Linked DNA regions of Homo sapiens: regions 1, 2, 3 and 4 are each linked to region 5. The links come from fine-mapping of genetic effects on gene expression. A gene starts in region 5. Each other region holds a variant in brackets. All regions are shown on one strand. Distances are between the middles of the regions.

Region 1 (4,115 bases), 100 kb before region 5:
CCGCAGAGGCCCCAAAGGATCAGCCTGGTCGACACCTTGATTTTGGACTTCTGGCCTCTAGAACCATCTTCAGCCCCCAAAGTTCGTGGGGCTTTGTTGCAGCAGCCCCAGCAAACTGTCACGGGGGCCCTCCTCCCCTGCTAAGCCTGGTACCCAAAGCTCCCCAGCTATCTGGGGCTAACCACACTGACCCTGGGACTTTCAGGTCACCCGTGTGTCCCACTCTTCTGCTTAACCTTCAGTGCCTGTGTGGTCACAGCTTCTCTCTCGTGATATGAGTCCTCTGGGCCTCTGAGTGCTCATCTGCCCTGCACTGAAGGCTGAAGTTAAATCCTGGAGAGAACTGACCCCTCTTGTGGGCAGGGCAGGCACTGTGCCCCCAGCACAGCCAGAGGGTACTGGCTGAAATGTGTCCCTGTAAAGTGTCTCCCCTATGCCCGTATTTTCCTTCCAAGTGGGGAAGCCAGAGAGGCCTCCCCGATCTTTCCCCCAGCCCCCTGGGGCAGGAAGCCTGTGGTCACCTGTCCGCAAGGATCAGGTGGACAGACAACTAGCCCCTCCCAGGCCACACCTCATCAACAGAGGGCCCCTCAATTCTGCTGGTGGCCTATGAGAGAAGGAAAAACTGAAGGAGTTGTTTACAGTAAACTCCAAACCCTTGTGCCAGAGAGGCCCATGGCTGAGCAAGGTACCCCCACCCCCACTGCCCTGAGCTGCCAACTCAGCCCAGCTCAGCACTGTGACCTCTGACCTGCCTGTGGGCCACGGGAGCCTGGCCTGCCAATCAGCATCTCCCAGATACCCATCTTGTGAAGTCCCCAGTGGCTGAGTGCTTCCCCGCCCTTCCCGGACAGCGTGGGCTACAGGGGACATTGGGCAGGAAGACAGCCAAGCCTCCACTGCCCAGAAACTGCCTGGGCCCATTGCAGCAACAGGGACCCACCCACCAGCATGAGGCCCCTCTGCAGGAGGGGTGGGGGCAGGAGGGAGCCTGTGGGGCACAGGGCTGCAGGAGGAGTCATTCTTCTCTTCATTAAATCGCAGGTTTCAGCCAAGTTATCCCCAGCATGGCTGCTTGCGTGGGAAGCCCACAGCTGAGGGACTGTCTGCACGTGGCATGCAGGAGTCACAAGCGCCATCTACACCCCACCCCGGGCCAGGCAGATGACCTCTCTGGTCTCAGTTTCCTGATGAGGAACAGGAAGGGCTGGACCGAAAGATCCCTTCCAGCCCGGACATGGAATGACCCCACGAGGGCCACGGTGAGGTCTGTCCCAGCTCCGCACACTAGCTCGGGCCAGCAGTTTCCAAAGGCACAGCCGCAGGGGCCTTGGAGCAGGGACAAGGAGGACCAGCCCACTTCACCCTCCTGGGCAGAGGTCAAGGACCCTGCCTTTGGCCCACATTCCTTGTGGCCAAAAATGCAGAAGCAAGCAGTGCTGGCAGAGGCACCTAGACCTTTGGGCAAAGCAGGGGCTCCACCTGACACCCCAGGCCTGGAGCACGAGAAAACCAGCCCAGGCCTCAGGTCCCCTGACTGCCAGCGACCAGGGAATGTGACACTTTCCGGCCTCTGCTTCCTCATCTCTCAATCCTAGGGGGAGATTAGGTTGGGTGATGTGTTTTTCTTTTTGACAGTAAACTTTTATTTATTTTTATTTTTATTCTTGTTTTAAGAGGGGGTCTCCCATGGCCGGGCGCAGTGGCTCACGCCTGTAATCCTGGAACCTTGGGAGGCCGAGATGGATGGATCACTTGAGGACAGGAGTTTGAGACCAGCCTGGTCAACATGGTGAAACCCTGTCTCTACTAAAAAATATGTGAGCTGGCAACTCCAAGTCCCCAGCAGCCTCCGAATGGAGGCTTTCCTCTTGTAGGATTCTCAAATCCTACAAATA[T/C]GAGTGTCTGTAATCCAGCTACTCAGGAGGCTGAGGCATGAGAATCACCTGAACCTGGGAGGCAGAGGTTGCAGTGAACCAAGAACGTGCCACCGCCACTTCAGCCTGGGACACAGTGAAACTCTGTCAAAAAAAAAAAAAAAAAAAGGTGGGGGTCTCCCTATGTTGCCCAGGCTGGTCTCAAACTCCTGGGCTTAAGGAATCCTCCTGCCTCAGCCTCCCAGAGTGTTGGGATTACGGGCACGAGCCCATGAACTTTAAAAAATAACATCTATTGCTTTGTTCCTGACTGTAAAAGGAATTTAGGCACAAAGCCGAAAATTTGCAAAATGCACAAAAACAAAGGGAAAAAATCTATAAACCCACAACCCAGGTAACTTCCATCAATATTCTGACAAATGTCTTTCCACTCTTTACTGGGGAGTGTGTGTGTGTGTGTGTGTGTGTGTGTGTGTGTGTGTGTGTGTGTTTAAACAGGTTCATACAGTGATGATGTTGGGTGCTTTCCTCCATGTGGCGCCATGTGGCTGAGGTCCCTACACATTTTGGGCCCGTTCTCTCGATTCCTCTGTAGTTCTGATGTTCTGATTCCAGATATGTCATTCTTGGCTCGGACTGTTCAGGAGAATCATTTCTGGATCTTGCTAAAAAATGGACTGCTGGTCCCCAACTCTTGGTGGTTCTGGCTCAGGAGGGCTGGGTAAGCCTGGGCACCCCGGAGTGTTTCTGGGGCGCTGCAGGTGTGAACCTCTGCCCTCCTGAAGACTCACAAGCCTCATCTCCCCCATCCCCTCCTTCCTCCCCGAGAATCCTACAAGAGGAAAGCCTCCATTCGGAGGCTGCTAGGGACTCGGAGTTGCCAGCTCACAGCCCCACCCTGCCCCCACCTCCCCGGGAGTTATCCAAGGACAATGTCCAGCCTCAGCTGCCAAGTCTCAGCTCCAGGGTCAGTCACACACTGAAGGACATGCAGAAGTCGCCGTGTGCTGGGCACTGCTGAGGACAAAGGCCTGAATGACAAGCGGGAACAAAGTCACAAGGTCCCAAAACCTGCCCGAGGTCCCACAGTCAGGGCCTCGGAAATCCATGAAAAAAGCCAGTTTAATACCCTGCCACGGAACACAGGCAGGAGAGGGAGCAGCCCCCAGCCAGCCCCCAGCCAGCCTCCCGCCAGCCTCTTTGCGAATCACCCCACTCCGGGTCACAGTCAGGGCAGCCGCCGCCTTCCTCCCTGCTCGACAGCCCTTGAGGGCAGGAGCCAGCTTGCCCATCATTGTCCCCTCTCCACTAGGGCCTGGCACCCTGCCTGGCATGTAGTAGAAGCCTAAGAAGGGCTCACTGTGTTCATTCTGCAATAGTCAATGTGTATGAGTGCTTACCATACCTGAAGACAGTGATTTACTCTTGTCCCCATTGCACAGATGGGAAACTGAGGCACTGAGAGGCTGATGACTCCCCCACATTGCCGTGTGGGCAAGGGCAAGGCCAGATGTGAGCCGGCACGCTGGGCCATCGCGCCCTCTGCCTACACTCCGCCCTGGGCCTGGGAAGGCTACCCTCGGAGATCCCCACGATGCTGACACCTCGCTCAGCCCCTCCGTGCACCCTCTCCCACGCCTCCCAGCCACCCAAAGTACCAGCCAGGTAGCACTGTTATTCTGGTTTTGCAAACTCAGTCATTGAGTGGAAGAGCAGCCAGGCTGAAGTGGGGCAGAGGCAGCCCCCGTCAGACCCCAGGGTCGGGACCCTCAGCCATCCCCACTCTCCAAGGACTAGTAGACAGAGATTTCCATCGTGCTCAGCCAGGGGCCAGGGAACAGGTCTCCACAGTGGGGGAGTGATGGATGGATGCAGGTGCGGACTGGGAGGACCCGGGCCGGCCTTCCAGCGCTGGAGCCTCAGCAGCCCAATCTACCTTGTTGGGCTCTCGTGGGGATTAAAAGACACCTTGTATACAAAGTACCAGCCCAGGGCCTGGCACCTAGGAGGTGCTCAATTAAAGGAAATGGTTATGAAAAATAACAAGGAGAAGCTCAGTCACAGGAGGTGCCTGTGGGTAAGGAGAGAACAGCTGGAAGGGCCTGGACTTGGGTCAGAGACAAAGAATGCAAGAGGGAGGGAGGGAGAGAAGGAGGGAGGGAGAGAAAGAGGGAGGGAAAGAAAGAGGGAGGGAGAGAGGGAGGGTAGGGCAGGCAACAGCTGGCTCCAGGGCAGCTG
Region 2 (4,115 bases), 89 kb before region 5:
ATCCCGGCCTGTGGGCTCAAGAGCCGAGGGGCGCAGGGCGAACATGCGAGTCCCATGGCACCAGCGAGAGGCCACCAACTCCCACCCACCGAGGGCACCCCTGCAGCTAACACCCCCACCACGACCACCGCCCCGGGGGCCACCGCTGCACCCTCCTGGGTGAGCCCTGGAGAAGGCACTGTCCGGGAGAAGGGGCACAGGGCGGGGATGGAACACGGCTGTCAGAGAAGCCAGGGACGGGCGACGCCTCCCTTCCTCCACAATAAGGGCCTCCTGAGAGCAGGAAGTAGACCTTGTCAGGAGCAGACGTTTCCGAAGGAAGGTGTGAAGGAAGGAGCTAGGCAGTGAGTGAGCAGAAAGGGAGCTGCCCCAAGGGCTTCTCCCTCCCTTCTGGGCCCTAACCTGAGGCCTAGCCTTCCCTCCAGGCCAGCGGTCTCTACCCTTAAACTATATCATCCACAAGGCAGGCAGGGCCGAGGGGCTGGGGTAGACCTGGGGACCTGGGTTAGACACAGAACTTGAGAAGCAACAGGCTCTCATCCTCAAGAAGGGCCCCCCAGGTCTGTCACCTACAAGAGAGAGAGGCGCTTCTTCCACTCGCCCTGGAAAGCCAGAAACCCACTCCTGCATGCTCTCCCTGTCACCCCGTCCCTTAGACCCTCGGCCTCTGCCCAGAGTCAGGGGCCATGTGAGAATTCACAGCATGGAACAACACCCCCACCCCCGAAGCAGCAGGCCGCAACGCTACAACTGCACTCCGGTCCCTTGAATGTGTGGCCGGGGAGCGCCTGACAGCTCATCCTGGGTCTGAGGTCGCTCGCTGCCCACTTGCCCCTCCCCACCCCCTCTGAAATATCCCAAATGTGCAGGAGTGCTGAGACTCTCCAGCCATTCTGGAGAGGCGGGGGGCAGGGGGTCTCTTGCGGAAAATGTTCTAGGTTTGGGTGGCTTTTTAAGTAGATGAAATCAAGTCCTTCCTTTTTAAGAAAAGCAGGCACTCCCTCCCTCATGCTTTGGATATTTTGAACTATTTTCAACCAAGTGAGTTTGTGGACATGGGAACTGCAAAACCACAGACATTTCAGATGCGTGCACACCCTCGTCGGCCTGGGAGCCCGGGTTTCAGAAATGCAGCCATTGCTGCCATTAATAGCACCCCGTATCTTCCACGCCAGGCCAGGGTATGTCTTGTCTGAACTCCAGCACCTGGGCCTATCGGATAGTCCAGCCCCTACTGGGCCACCTGTCCACGCCGTATTTGGGGATTTGGGGGTCCAGTACCTAAGAAACTCAGCCCAACAACACAGCCCCCCTGGGAAGATGCCGGGTCCGGCACAACAGCCATCCTAAGCCACAGCATTATTCTCGAGTGTTTTTCTAAAAAGCACCTGGTGAGTGTGGACACACCCATGCAATTGTTCTTTCCCAGGGCTGGCATGGAGTTCCACCAGATTAGCACAGGGTCAGCCAATTGTACATTCTCCATCTCCACGCACAGTGCAGCAAACATATTTAGTTCCCTGGGGAGCGCCGCCAGGGTGCACGCCTCACCAAAATGGGAACCCAAGGGACAATGGCAGGAGAGCAGCCAGAAAGTGCGCATGCCTTCGTGACTGTGCTCAGAGCCCACCGGCTCCAGCCCCAGCCACTGCCCCTTCAATGTAATCACTCAGAGCCACATGACCAGGCCTAGAAACCTCCAGGTAAGGAGGTTCCCCGAGCTCTTTCAGGAAACCCAAATCAGGGCTTGGCCATACTCCCAGCCAGGAAGTTCACCCTCGTATCTAACCAACTGCTCTAATTGTACATCATTTATTTCCTTTTTTTTCCTGTCCTCAGAGGAGATGGGAAACAGCTGGGCACCACCCTTCAAGTCATAATTACCTTTTCCACATTCAAGGACAATCCAGTTGCTCCTTGGCCTCCTCTTTCTCAGCCTAAATCATCTTTCTCTAGCCCTTTAATCATATCCCGAGCTGTCCTTTGATCATAGCTAAGGGCTGGGTCCAGTCTGGGGCTCCAGGATTTTAATGAGGCCTCATTGCTACAGGATAGTGAGGAGGCCCTCCACCCCCCTTTTCTAGGGCCTCAGGGCCTGGACACACAGTCCCAGAAGGGGCACTGGGCAGAGAAGATGCACGCCGGCAGCAGAGAGGAAACTGAGCTGAAATTTGGCAAGAACAAAAGAACTATAAAGGCCTGTGCATCCAGCAAGGTGCATTCTTCCACGGTCACAAAAGAAGGCAAGACCGACTGCAGGCCTGGCCAAAGGGACCGCCTGCGTCTTCAGTGCACAACGAGACCTACAGTGGGC[C/T]GGTGATCCCCCCCAAAACAAAGATATGCCCACTTGGAACCTCAAATGTGACCTGATTCTGTTTAAGGGTCTCTGCAGAAAGAATTTAGGCAAGGATCTCAAGATAAGGTGGGCCCTAAATTCAATGCTGTGTCCTTCTAAGAGACAGAAAAGAAAGTACAGAGACACAGAAAAAGGCCTTGTGAAGACAGAGGCAGAGACCGGAGTGATGCAGCCACAGGCCAAGGAACACCTGGGGCCACCAGAAGCTGGAAGAGGCAAAGAAAGGTTTTCCCCTGGAGTCTTCAGAGGAAGCTGGCCCTGCTGGCACCTTGATTTCAGACTTCTGGCCTCCAGAACTGTGAGAGGACACATTCCCCTTGCTATAAGCCACCCAGTTTCGACAGTTGTTACAGCAGCCAGGAGAAACTCGTGCCTTATTCCCATCTGCATCATGCCTTGAGGTCAAAGCTTCATACAGCAAAGATGTCTAAGCAATCACAAACCCTGTGGGTAGCCCACCCGTCCAGCAGATCACTGTCCCAAGGGAAGGGGGATGGGGACAGGGAAGAGAGCCATAGGAAACCCCTGCACGCCTTTCTGGAAATGGGAAGGAGCAGGTCTGGAGAGAAACCCCACAGGTCAGGCCCCGGGGAAATGAAGCTTACAAAGCGTGGGAACGGAGTGGGGAGGAAATCCACGAGGAAGCAGCGTTTGGCGCACACATCCATATCCATGACCCCCCTCCAGGCACAGCCTCCATGGAGAGGCTCAGCTGGCAGGGAAGCAAAAGAGGCTCGGAGAGCGAAGGAAGGTGAGGGGCTTTCTCCCAGCAACACTGAGGCTCCAGACGGGACACCCCATTAGGTGGCAGGCTGTGTCCTCATAGACAGAGACTTCCCAAGGGCAGGGCCCAGATGGTCTTATCTCTGCGTGGCCTGACACAAAGTAGGCCTCCCAGAGCTGCCGAGCCCTGGGTCCGTCAGTGGCAGAGCCTTCCACAGCCCCTCAAGTTCCCACAGCCCCTCATCTTAGGAAACGGTGCTACCATCCACCTAGTTGCTCAAGCCAAGTCTCCGGGCACCACTGTTGACTCCTCTCTTTCCCTCACCCTCAGCATCCAAACCATGGTGCGTTTCTACCTCTAGTCTCTCTGCGAATCAGTCTGAACCTCCCTCCTCCAGTAGTGTGCCAGTTAACGGTCAACAACCGGCCACCTGGGGCCAGCAAAAGCAACAACACTCAGTTTCCCGATTTGTAGCGCTTGCCTATTCCTGTGGTGTCAATATTCCTGCCTTGGCCAATTTCTTTCTTTTCTTTTCTTTTTTGACAGGGTCTCACTCTGTCACCCGGTCTGGAGTGCAGTGGGGCAATCCTGGCTCACTGCAAACTCCACCTCCCAGGTTCAAGTGATTCTCCTGCCTCAGCCTCCCAAGTAGCTCGGATTACAGGCACCCGCCACCACTCCTGGCTAATTTTTGTATTTTTACTAGAGATGAGGATTCACCCTGCTGGCCAGGCTGGTTTTGAACTCAGATGATCTGCCTGCCTTGGCCTCCCAAAGTGCTGGGATTACAGGCATGAGCCATCGTGCCCAGCCGGCCAATTTCAAGTTATCTGTATGACATCATTGGAGGTGAGACTGAGAAGAGATGTTTAGTCACCACGAATATAGTGTTTCTATCATACAAATACAACCTCAAGAACATAACCGCAACAGGACAGACAATAGTTAAATGTTGCAAAAAACCTAAGAGGTGATGAAAGTTGTGTATTTATTATCTTTTGTTTTAAATATAATTACTTATAAGTAATTTTTTAA
Region 3 (4,115 bases), 220 kb before region 5:
ACAGTGCTCTGGAATTATAAGTTCTCAGGGAGTTTGTTAGTTTCAAATCTTGGGAGTCTGAATTCGAGATCTGACCTGGCCTTACCTTTTCTTTTTTTTTTTTTTTTGAGATGGCATCTTGCTCTGTCGCCCAGGCTGGAGTGCAGTGGCATGATCTTGGCTCACTGCAACCTCTACCTCCCGGGGTTCAAGCGATTCTTCTGCCTCAGCCTCCCGAGTGGCTGGGACTACAGGCGCCCACCACCATGCCCAGCTAATTTTCGTATTTTTAGTAGAAACGGGGTTTCACCATATTGGCCAGGCTGGTCTCAAATTCCTCACCTTGTGATCCAACTGCCTCAGTCTCCCAAAGTGCTGGGATTACAGGCGTGAGCCACCGCGCCCGGCCTACCTTTTCTTGCCCATGCTTCTTGCCCACCTGCAGCTGACCCCAACCTGTCCCGAGGCCCAAAGAACTGCACTTCAGGGGCAGAAAAAACATTCTCACTCAGGAGCCTTCTGGGTTTCTGCATTTGAAACATTTATTTCAGGAAATACATTTTCAACACTTTGTCATTTATACAAAAAGACAAATTTCTCGGGAGGCACGTAGCAAAAGGCCATTGAGGAACAGAGCCTGATGAAACGAACAATTTTTCAAAGTCTGGTTACAGAGAAGGAAAGTGAAGCATCTCAAGGCTGGGATGCTGCTGCCCACCCCCACCCCACCCCGCCACCAAGTGACATTGAGGCTGGGCAGGCCACATGGCCTGGGCCCTGGCGCTGGCCACTCATTTCCTTCAAAATCTTGGTTTTGGCAAAAACATGGCAAGTTGGCAAAGTAAACTGTCTCACCAGTGGGGGTGGTGAGGGGTCCTTCCTCTCTTGGGTGGGGAGGGAGTCAGACGCCCAGTGCCCCAACTTCCATGCACACACACTCACACTCATACACTCCTTCTCGCTGACCTTCTCCTGGCTGCAAGCAGCCAGCCCGGTGCCTGCAGATGCACCTGGTGATGTGTGCACCTGAGTGGAGTCTCATCAGGCCCCTCTTTCTCCCCAGGAGCAAGACAGGTAACAGGAAGCAGGAAGGGACTTTGGTCATCTGTGCCCTGCAAAGACAGCCCCCATGGGTCCCCTCGTGGGGACAGAGGGTGAGGGGCCGGGCCGTGCTGCCACGAAACCTTGCTCTTCAGCTGTGGACTGTGCACCCCTGACGCCCGTTCTCTCCTTTCTAGGGGTTCGTTACCATGGGCTCTGAGGGGAGGGGCCCAGGCACGGGTAGATCAACAGAGTCAGGCTCGCCTGGCCTCCCACCTCCCCAGCTCAGAGAGTCAGCAAGGCCTGGGCCAGGAAGGGTGAGTGGCAGGGGTGGCTGGCTGGGCATTAATGTAACTACAGCCCAGTCTTGGGCCAAACCCAGACACTAGACAGACAGACGGACACGCATACACATGGACACACACACACTTCCCTGGTCACTTGGGCAGGGCAGGCGCCGGGCAGCTCACGCCACTCTGACCAGCCCAAGCCACGGCCCACACGTGCCCCCGCCAACCTTCCTTCTGGCACCTTCCATGGCTCCCTCCCTCAGCTCCTCCACCAGACTCACTTGCTTAGACCTTTTCAAAACTGGGGGATGAGGGGGTAGGGGTCATCTCTCCTTCCTTTTTATCCTCAATCAGATCCCAGCGCATCAGCAGCACCTGCAGCCCGGTGGGGGCGGGGGTGGCGTGAGAGGGGGATGGCAGGGAGATGAAGACGCCTCCCTCATTCCAGCCTGTCCCCGCATCTGGCC[A/G]AGCAGTCTGCGGATGGCTGAGATAAAGGCACTTTCTGCTCCAGGAGGGGCAGCTGCCAGGGGGCTTGGAGTGGCTGGGCAGTCGGTGGCAGGGGACCCTGGAGTTTTCTACCCTTAGGAGCAGGGCAGGGGTAGGGGCTGAGTGATGGCCACACCATGTGGCGGGCAGGGGGTCCAGGTGCTCCTGGTGGGCTGCATTCTCCCCTGGGCTCTGACACACTCCAGGGGACAGGGCCGATGGGGATGGAGGGGAGCGTGCAGCCCACTGGGCTCCTCTGCAAGTGCGAGGCCTGGCCCCCACCCCAAGGCCTCCGGCACTGAGAACCCCACACAGACGGATGATCTGCACACCGAAGCTGCTCTTCTGAGCCCTCGGGGAGCCAGGCCTGGGGACAGAGGGTCATGTCAATTCAGTGGGTGCTCTCACCCCTGCCTGTGGCTCCAGTGCAGCCTCCCCACAACCTCGGGGAGGCCGCGGCCTCATCACTGACTCACTCGGAGGGAGGCCCCTTCCCTTGTTTCCTGGCAGCATGTCGAAGGGGTGGGGAACGATGACAAATGGAGAAAATCATATAAAATAAAATGGGGTGGTGGGAGGGCCTGGGGGGGGACGGAAATGACTTGGGGGCAGGATCCCGGGGGTGGGCAGGGTGGCGTCTACATCTCCGGGGCTTCTGGCTCCTTCTCCTCCATGCCGTTGGCCATGGCGCTGCTGCCCTCGTTGAGGCGCTTCACACGGTACGCCTCGAAGTGGATGCTGCTGGTGATGTCCTTGATGTTCTGCATGTGCGTCCTGTGGGGGTGGGGGGCGGGCGGGTCAGTGAGGTGGGCGCAGCGGGGTGGGGGCAGCGGGGCAGGGGCCCTGCTCGGCCTGCCTCGGACTCAGGCCCGCCTGCCCCCACCCCCACTCCCCATCCCGACTGCTTGGCTCCCCATGGGGTCCCCCAGGCCCACCATGTTGGACCAGATCTGGTACACGTTTTGGGGGAAGGGTCAGTCCCCCTGGTAAGCCCAGACTCGGTCAGAACACACATATTCCAGTGCATGTGTCTCCCTCTGGGTCCACCCTATGGCCCTGGGTCCAGGGCCCAGGGACAGTGCATAGACTCAGAGGGACAGGGCTGGAGCATTGTTGCTCCAGGCCGGTGTCCAGGGTGCTGGCAGGGTGGAAGCAGTGGGTGACCACCGGCCTCCAGGACTATGGCCTGTGGCAGGCAGGTGGCCTGGGGCAAAGGGCTGGGTTGCCCTTGTCCCCAGGAAAAAAAAGTCCTGGGCTCGGATTTTCATTCCTCTGCAGCTCAGGAGGAATAATCTGGAGGGAGGTTGGAAAGCCCAGTATCCCCACAATGGCAGAACGGCTCCCGGAATCCCCCCACCCCTGCCCCCGCCAACCTGGAGGCCCCTCCTCTTGATAACATTCCCATCATCCATGCCAGCTGCTTGCTGAGGAAGAACCTGCCCAGGCCAGGGCCCACACTCCAGGGACCACCCACCCAGCACCCTCTCCATCAGGGCTTCCCCTCCTTGCCTGGACTCAAGGGAAACAAGGAGAAGCCTCAGCCAGGTGAAAGGGGTAGGGGTCAGAGGCCAGTGGGATCGGAGCTGGAGACGCCCCACGCTGCCGGCAGGGCCTGCACATGAGGCCTCACTGGGCCCTTAGTGGCCACCGGGCAGCTCTAACGGGCCAGACCACAGTGGATCAAAGCTCAGCCTTCCCATCCAGCCAACTTCGCAGGGGTTGAAAAGGATCTTCACTGCCTGCTTCATTTCCCAGTGGGTTTTCTTTTTCAGAAGATGGGCTTCCAAGATCTTCCCGAGGGCAGGGCAGGCAGGTGGCAGGGGGCACCCACTCTGCCCAGGGCTTCGGCCCCACACCCACTGCCCCCACCCGCTGTAGGGCCCTCTTAGGGGTGAAGCCGTCAGCCCCACCCAAGCACCCTGTCTCTCACCTGATGAGAAGGTCCCGCAGGTAGGCAAACTCACAGTGTGTGGTGTTTTCAACTAGGAGAGGAGACAGGAGGGGCTTTAATGTCCCAGTGGAGAAACTCTGCCCGGACCCCACCTCTCTCCCCCTGCCCAGAAATGCTGGTGCCAAAAGCAGAGTCTGAGGGCAGCCCCATGGGCAGGAGGGCAGGGGAACCACCTGCTCTGCAGCTGAGTATAGGACACCTGGCACTGCCCTCAGTCTGGGGGATACTGGAGTGACCAGCACCAGCTCCTGCTCCTGGACAGCTCAGCTCCTGCTCTCCAGAAAGTTCCTGGCTAATGGGAGATGGCACAGTGACCAGGCCAAATAGGAGCATGGAAGGAAGCCACAGTGGAGAAGCCAGGGCAGTGG
Region 4 (4,115 bases), 55 kb before region 5:
AGGTTGCAGTGAGCTGAAATCGTGCCACTGCACTCCAGCCTGGGCAATAGAGCAAGACTCTGTCTCAAAAAAAAAGAAAAAGAAAAAAGAAACAAAGAAACTGCTGCCACAGCTACCTTCAACTTTCAGCAACCACCACCTGGTCAGCAGCCATCAACATTGAGGCAGACCTTCTACCAAGAAAAAGATTATGGCTTGCTGAAGGCTCAGATGATTATTAGCATTTTTTAGCAAAAAGACATAATGATCTTATACACTTTAATAGACTATAGTATAGTGTAAACATAACTTTTTTCTTTTTTTTTTGAGATGGAGTCTCGCCCTGTCACCCAGTCTGGAGTACAGTGGTGTGATCTCAGCTCACCGCAACCTCCACCTCCCAGGTTCGAGCAATTCTCCCACCTCAGCCTCCCAAGCAGCTGGGACTACAGGCATGTGCCACCACACCCAGCTAATTTTTGTATTTCTAATAGAGATGAGGTTTCACCATGTTGGCCAGGCTGTTCTCAAACTCCTAACCTCAAATGATCCGCCCACCTTGGCCTCCCAAAGGGCTAGGATTACAGGCATGAGCCACCATGCCTGGCCTAAACATAACTTTTATATGTACTGGGAAACCAAAAAGTTTGTGTGACGTGCTTTATTGCAATATTTGCTTTATTGCCGAGGTCTGGAAGCAAACCCTAGGTATGCTTGTATTACGAACAACTTTAAATGAGTAAATTCAACAACTTACCTGAAAGGGACAAATTCCTTCAAAGTACAACTTACCAAAAGTAAGACAAGGGGAAGTAAAAAAACCTGAATAACTCTTTCTATACATTAAATTGAATTTGTGATTAAAAACAAACAATCACCTTTCCTAGTAGAAAATTCTAGGTCCAGACGGTTTTCTTGGTGGATTCTATCAAACATTTAAGGAAGAAACAACATCAACCTTATGAAAACACAGAAAACAAAGAGAAGGGAACACTTCCAAACTAATTTTATGAAGCCAAAATGAGGCTGACAAAGACATTACCGAAACAAACTAACAAACAAAGAAAATACCACACCAATATCCCTCATGAATCAACACGCAAAAATCCTTAAAAACTGGGCAAATCAAATTTAGCAATATATAAAAAGGATGATATCTCATAAGCAAGTTGGACTTCTTCCAGAAATGCAAGGTTGGTTCAATATTAAAAAATCAGGCCTGCACAGTGGCTCACACCTGTAATCTCAGCACTTTGGGAGGCAGAGGTGGGAGTATTGCTTAAGCTCAAGAATTGCAGACCAGCCTGAGCAACACAATGAGACCCCATCTGTACAAAAAATTTTAAAAATTAAAAATTAGCTTGGCATGGTGGCATGTGCCTATAGTCCCTGCTACTTAGGAGGCTGAGGTGGGAGGATTGCTTAAGTCCAGGAGTTCAGGCTGCAGTGAGCTACGATGGCACCACTGTGCTACAGCCTGGGCAAGAGTGAGACTCTGTTTCTTTAAAAAAAAAAAAAAAAAAAACGGGGGGCAAAAATCAATCATTGTAATTTATCCTATTAAACGAATAAAAGACAAAACAATGATCATTTCCATAGATGCAGAAAAAGCATTTACTAAAATCATACCCATTCATGTTAAAAAATTTCAGCAAATTAAGAATAGAAGGGAATTTCCTCAATCTGACAAAGGTCATATATGACAAATCTAAAGTTAACATTATAAGTTTGGCACAGGCAAGGATGTCCACTAATCACTACTATTCAATACTGAACTGGCAGCTCTAACCAGTGCAATAAAGCAAGAAAAAAAAACAAGGCATCAAGATCAGAAAGAAGTAAAACTATGTATTTAAATCCTAAAAGACCTACAAAACCATTACCAGAGTAATAAATGACTTTGGAAAAGATCATAGGATATAAGATTTACATACAAAAATCTATTGTATTTTTACATACTAGCAGCAAATAATTAAAAATGAAATTTAAAATCTATTTCAGCTTAAAATAGTGCCAAAAGTAAAATTCTTAGGAATAAATTTAACAAATGGCATGCAAGATCTTTTTCTTGAAAACTACAAAACAATGTAATTCTGTAGAGATTTTTTTTCAGTAGAGAAATAAAAGAAATACAAAAGGACCTTTAAAACGGAGATATACCATCTATACAAAAGACTCAATATTGTTAAAATGCCAATTCTTCCTTAATTGATCTACAGATTCAACACAATCTCAACCAAAATTCACACTGCATTTTTGTAGACATCAACAA[G/T]CTACTTCTTAAATTTATAAGGAAACTCAAAGGACCTAGAATATTCAAAGTAATATTTTAGATATTTGAGAGACTTTATATTAAGACTTACTGTAAAGCCACATTAATCAAGATGTGGCATCAGCAAAGGAATGGACAAAATATCAAGAAAACACAATAGTGTCTCAACACAGGGCCTACATGTATACAGTACATATACTAATATAGGACCACATATACAGTCAACATAGGACCTACATGTATACAGTACATATACTAATATAGGACCACATATACAGTCAACATAGGACCTACATGTATATATGTACATATACTAATACAGGACCACATATACAGTCAACACGGGGCCTACATGTATATATGTACATATACTAATACAGGACCACATATATATATACAGTCAACATAGGGCCTACATGTATATATGTACATATACTAATACAGGACCACATATACAGTCAACATAGGGCCTACATGTATATATGTACATATACTAATACAGGACCACATATACAGTCAACATAGGGCCTACATGTATATATGTACATATACTAATACAGGACCACATATACAGTCAACATAGGGCCTACATGTATATATGTACATATACTAATACAGGACCACATATACAGTCAACATGGGGCCTACATGTATATATGTACATATACTAATATAGGACTACATATACAGTCAACATAGGGCCTACATGTATATATGTACATATACTAATATAGGACTACATATACAGTCAACATAGGGCCTACATGTATATATGTACATATACTAATACAAGACCACATATACAGTCAACATGGGGCCTACATGTATATATGTACATATACTAATACAGGACCACATATACAGTCAACACGGGGCCTATATGTATATATGTACATATACTAATACAGGACCACATATACAGTCAACATGGGGCCTACATGTATATATGTACATATACTAATACAGGACCACATATACAGTCAACACGGGGCCTATATGTATATATGTACATATACTAATACAGGACCACATATACAGTCAACACAGGGCCTACATGTATAAATGTACATATACTAATATAGGACCACATATACAGTCAACATAGGGCCTACATGTATATATGTACATATACTAATACAGGACCACATATACAGTCAATATAGGGCTGATATGTATATACTAATACAGGACCACATATACAGTCAACATAGGGCCAATATGTATATACGTACATATACTAATATAGGACCACACATACAGTCAACACAGGGCCTACATGTATATACGTACATATACTAATATAGGGCCACATATACAGTCAATGATTTTTAGCAAAGGTGTCAGGTAATTCAATAGAGTAAGGTATGTCTTTTCAACAAACGGTGCTAGAACTGGATATGAGTATAGAAAAACAAGAATTAACCCTGACCTCAAACCAAATACAAAAACTGATTTAAAATGGATCATACAACATCCTGACGGCTATAATAGGTTAAAAAATGTAAAAATTTAAAAAATTAAAAAATAAAAGGAATCATAGAATATACAACTATAAAATTTCTAGAAAATAAGAGAACTTCTTTTGACCTTAGTGTAGGCAAAGATTTCCTCCATAGGTCACAAAAATCATAAATCGAAACTGGAAAAAGTTGATAAATTGGACTTTATGAAAACAAAATACTCTTGCTCATTAAATAACATCATTAAGAAAACCAAAAGGAAAGGAGCAATGTGGAAAAAAAAACTTATGATACATATATCTGATAAAGGACTTATATCCAGAATATATAAAAAACATATGAAACAACATTTTTTTTTTTTTTTTTTTTTGAGACAGAGTCTTGCTCTGTCACCTAGGCTGGAG
Region 5 (4,115 bases):
CCCTCCAGTCCCACTCCATACAACTGCAACACAGTGACCCAGCACACCTTGGGCCACTGCCAAGCAGGGAGCAAACCAGAAATGGTCTGAGCCCTCCCTTCCCCCATCCTCAGAGGGGCCTGCCCCTTTAGGTAAACACAAGGAGGCACCGAGGCTGCTGTACAAGAGTTGGTTCCTGCTCACTCCACAAACTCTACTTCCACCTACTGCAAAAGGTTCTGTCCTTTTTTTTAAAAAAAAAAAAAAAAAAGAAACCCAGTGAGGGGTGGGGTAGGTGTGTGTGGAGGAGAGGAGAAAAGGACAAGTGATGGTCTCCCCACCTCCCAGTAAGCCGCAGGTGCAGAGACTCCAAGCCTGCCTCAGGGCCCTTCCGGCATCTGTGCAGGAGGGTCTCCGCAGAAAAAACCCAGGACCCACGACCTGGGAGGACCCCGGTCACCCCCACTGTCTGGACCCACCAGTGGGAGGTAAAGTGTAAGAAACCAAGGGCAAAGGGCCCTCCCTGGGCGGGCTAGAGATCCCCTGGAAAGGGCCATGCACCGCGCGATCCCCACAACAATCTCAAGTATTTGGAGCATGTTGGGGAGGAAGCCCCGGTGCCAAAACCAAGCATGTGCCACCTGGAAGCCCGCTCCCGCCCACCAGCACACCAACCCACCCACGCTCCTGACAGAGCTGTGCTCCGGGTGCGTAGAGGGCCATCTTGTTCGCAACAACCGGGTGAAAGTTGAAATTCTAAGCTACTGACCCAGAAGGGTATTTTCGGGGAAGTTCTGAGTAATCCTCTTTGAGACAAGGTACTTTATCACTCATTTTGGTTCCTAAATATGGAAAGCCAGAGGAAACCGACAATGGCCCAAAGGCAGGGGGATGGCCCCGATGACTCCTTCACCTCCAACTAAGGCCCATGATTCTGTTCTCCTATCAATAAAAATTAATTCATGGATCCTTGGCAGGTACCTTTCTATCTGAATGAATTAAAGGAGGGACATTAAACAAACGGTTTCTAGATTTAGAAGAGGAGACGCTATTTATAATTTGAGGACTGAGGAGGACAAAGGATCCTGCCTGCCTGGATCCTTTGGAGAAAACCACAAAGGAAAAAAAAAAGGAAGGAAAAGACAAATAATGAAGATCTGGATTTCTCTTAACCTGCCCTTGTGGCCTCGGTGTGCCCATCTGTGAAATGGAACTTCAGAGTGCCAGAGCGGGAGCCTCTTATGAAATGAAAGCTCCTGAACCGGCTCATGGTGAGGCCCAAGTCAGGCCCCCTTCGCCTACTTAAGGCGGGCCCTGCTAGGGTGGAGTGAGGATGTCAGCCGCGGGCGGCGTCCTGAGCGCAAAACGTGAACCCGAGTCGCCAAGTTTGGGCGCTGCTGGACGGTCCCATCTGGAGGCCGTCCCGTGCCCCACTAAGTAGAGGAGAAACCGAAGAGAATCCGAAGAAAGGATGCTGCGGCCTGGACCACCAGCCCTAGAGGCTGAACCCAAGGACACCCCTCCACCTAGCCCCGACCCCATTCACCCACACAGACGCACAGGGACCCAAAGCACCCGGCCGACCTGGAAAGTCAGCGATTCCTGCGAGGGTGCAAGGGGCGAGGAAGAGGGAGCGTCCCCCAGGGCAGCCCCTCCGACACTCGAGCAAGGGCTGGAGACAGCGCAGGGGACGGTCGGCTCAGGTCGAAAGCGGCCCGACAGCGGCCCTGTCCTGGGAGGAACTCGACCTGCAGTGTGCCCGCCGCGGGGACTCGCTCAGCTCCGGGGGCGCCTCGCCACTCCCGGCCGCAGGCACTCAGGTGAGCAGCGCTGGTCCCGGGACACCGACCCCTCCCCACCCCGGGCGCGAAGCCCACCTGAGTAAGACTTCTTCATGGTGCCTCCGTGGCCGCCGCTCCCAGGAAAGTGTGGCGGCGAGGCAGCGGGGCGCGCGCTCCCAGGGCGCTAATCCTGGGCCGGTAGTAGGAAGGCGGGAAGAGGGGGCGGCCCGCCGTCTGGAGTGCACCGACCGGGCCCCGCCCCGGCCCCGCCCCCGCCCCGCCCCTCCCCGGAGATGCGCATAGAACCCCGGCCCAGCCGGCTGTGGTCCCGCCCCTGACCCGCCCCCTCCCCGCCCCGTGAACGTGCGCGCCGAGCCCCACCCCCGCCCACCCCTGCGCTGCGCTGCACCTGGCGGAGCGGGGCTGGCGGGCGCCGGGCCTGGGAGGGGGCGCCCCCGCGCGGCAGCGCAGACCAGACCAGACCAGGCCAGGCCGGGGGTGGGGGCCGCCTGCGTGGCCCGCCGCGCCCGCAGCTCTGCACCCCCAGCTCCCCGCGCTGGCGCCAATGGCTGGTTCCGGGAGTCGCCGCACTTCCCAGTCCCGAGTCCGGGCGGGGCGGGCCCGGCCAGGTGGAAGCGGGCGGAGGTGCGGGCGCTCCGGGCGGCCCCGCCGGGCGAGGCGGCGGCGCCGGGCACCGCGGCGGCGCCGGGCACAGCCGGGGGTCGGAGCCGGGGTGCCGGCTTAGTGGGCCGGGGTAGGGCGGGACAGGACACCTGTCCTGCTACTTTTCTGGTAATCAAAAGGGCAGAGTGCGTCGATTGAGTTGGAGCCTTAGTTTCCTCACCTGTAAATGGGCGCGTTGGACAGATGATCATTTGTTCTCCCTGCGCTGGGCACCGTGCGCAGCTCGGTGTATCGGTGCAGCGGGGCAGACACAGGGAGCCGCCCTTTACAACTCGGGTAACGCAGGCAGTGGTGAGAGGATGCAAAACTTGCACGGAAGAATTCTCTCTACTTGGATATCCTTAAAGTCTCCACGATAAAGCGGTGTTTCCAACGTACAGAGGAAGAAGTGACTAATTATGACTGGAGGGTGGTGTCAGAGTTTTATTGAGGCGAAATCAAAACAGGGTTTTAAGGAATGAGCAGGAATTAGCCAGGCAGCCAAGGTGATGGAAGGCAGCTGTTCCCGAAAGAGGGAAGGGCGTGGCGGAGCCTGGGAGGCCTGAGGTATCACAGCGAGTGTGGAGAGACAGAGGCAGGGCCGGGCCCTTGCACAGCTGCCAATGGAGGCCGTAGAGGACGAGAGGAAGGCGGGAGGCCAGTTGGGAAGCGCTCGCTAGTTCTGGGTAGGGGCGCAGCATTGCCTTCTCCTGCAGCCCTCCCAAAAATGCACAGGAGGCTGAAAGTGTCACTAACAGCCCCGAAAAATCCTCCTCCTCTTCCCCTCTCCTTTACTCTCCTTGGGGGTCCAAGAAGCATTTTCATTTCCTGCCTGAGTGTGGGAAACTTATATGCATGAGAACGGAGGCCTATGTGGCACCGTGGGTTCGTTCCGGCCCACCTGCTTCCTTTCTTGAGTAATCTGTCCAGCCACAGCCCTGCAGAGGGAGCAGCCCAGCCAGAGGAGTTTCCCCTCACCCCAGGTAGAGCTGATTGGACCGGAGTGGACACTGGACTTCAACTGAGTCCACCCCTTTCCTTATCTGGGGGTTAGAGGCTCAGGAGGCCTCGGGAGGGAAGTGCTGTAAGGGAGGGGAGCAGGGAGTATGGACGAATTGTGAACAGCGTCCTGGATTCTGGGATGTCCACACCCTAACCGCAACCCCCACCCACACGCCCACTCACCGCTTGTACCAGCACCAGCAGATTCCGGCTTAGGCCGTGTCCTGACTTGGCCAGCAAGCACCATGATGACACTGCCCCCAGCCTAGCCATGATGACACTGCCACGAGCCTAATGCCTGGGATTCCCAAAGTCCAGCGGTGTCTCAAGAATCTGGGTTATGGGTGCATTGCTGGCTTTGTCCATTTTACTCAGCACAAGTCAGAGGTGCCCTGGAGCACAGTCACCCTGAGGATGCCAGCCCTGGCTGTTCCCTGGCTTTGGGTAGGTGGGTTCCTCTGCGGATGCTCACGCTTCTGCCTGGGGTCACAATTCACAGGAACCTGGGCACCCAGGACCCAAGGACACCTGCGTGGAGTGATGTTGGACACATCACATGGGTGCCTCCTGTGTGATGGTTCCTGGATATCCGAATTTTCCTTCCGATTCCAAGAAATCAGAAAGAAGGACAAGAGAGAGGGAGGGAAGGCTGGGAATGAGGGTTCTACACATTTTTGAGATGCATGAAGC

Which allele goes with the higher level. Alleles are on the strand shown, and positions count from the first base shown. SD is a standard deviation of normalised expression in the study named. Not every link is listed here.
For the expression in left ventricle of the gene that starts at base 1,912 in region 5, allele C in region 1 goes with a higher level than allele T (small effect, 0.27 SD a copy in GTEx).

What was found. PIP is the estimated chance that this variant, and not a neighbour inherited with it, causes the effect.
Region 1: its variant is the best candidate, but not a certain one, in a credible set for the expression of SEPTIN9 in left ventricle (GTEx, PIP 0.59).
Region 2: its variant is the best candidate, but not a certain one, in a credible set for the expression of SEPTIN9 in whole blood (INTERVAL, PIP 0.80).
Region 3: its variant is the best candidate, but not a certain one, in a credible set for the expression of SEPTIN9 in whole blood (INTERVAL, PIP 0.63).
Region 4: its variant is the best candidate, but not a certain one, in a credible set for the expression of SEPTIN9 in whole blood (TOPMed, PIP 0.61).

Annotation. Positions count from the first base shown.
Region 1 is chr17:77,383,095-77,387,209 of GRCh38, reverse strand. All of the region lies in intron 2 of SEPTIN9 (septin 9), which reads right to left. Among named protein-coding and RNA genes, the nearest start is that of MIR4316, 12 kb to the left of the region's middle. RefSeq lists an enhancer at 3,588-4,115. The variant T/C (reference allele first, on the strand shown) is at 1,899.
Region 2 is chr17:77,368,738-77,372,852 of GRCh38, reverse strand. All of the region lies in intron 2 of SEPTIN9 (septin 9), which reads right to left. Among named protein-coding and RNA genes, the nearest start is that of MIR4316, 26 kb to the left of the region's middle. The variant C/T (reference allele first, on the strand shown) is at 2,315.
Region 3 is chr17:77,496,978-77,501,092 of GRCh38, reverse strand. SEPTIN9 (septin 9) reads right to left here. Exons shown (of 12, transcript NM_001113491.2): 11 at 3,727-3,778; 12 at 500-2,570. The coding sequence ends at 2,435. Among named protein-coding and RNA genes, the nearest start is that of MIR4316, 100 kb to the right of the region's middle. RefSeq lists an enhancer at 3,569-4,115. The variant A/G (reference allele first, on the strand shown) is at 1,778.
Region 4 is chr17:77,334,388-77,338,502 of GRCh38, reverse strand. The region is part of intron 2 of SEPTIN9 (septin 9); the gene reads right to left. Among named protein-coding and RNA genes, the nearest start is that of SEPTIN9-DT, 55 kb to the right of the region's middle. The variant G/T (reference allele first, on the strand shown) is at 2,252.
Region 5 is chr17:77,279,296-77,283,410 of GRCh38, reverse strand. It overlaps SEPTIN9 (septin 9), which reads right to left and starts at 1,912. Exons shown (of 12, transcript NM_001113491.2): 1 at 1,857-1,912. The coding sequence starts at 1,875. It overlaps SEPTIN9-DT (SEPTIN9 divergent transcript), which reads left to right and starts at 1,514. Exons shown (of 3, transcript NR_136503.1): 1 at 1,514-1,799. RefSeq lists a silencer at 1,418-1,581 and an enhancer at 3,183-3,830.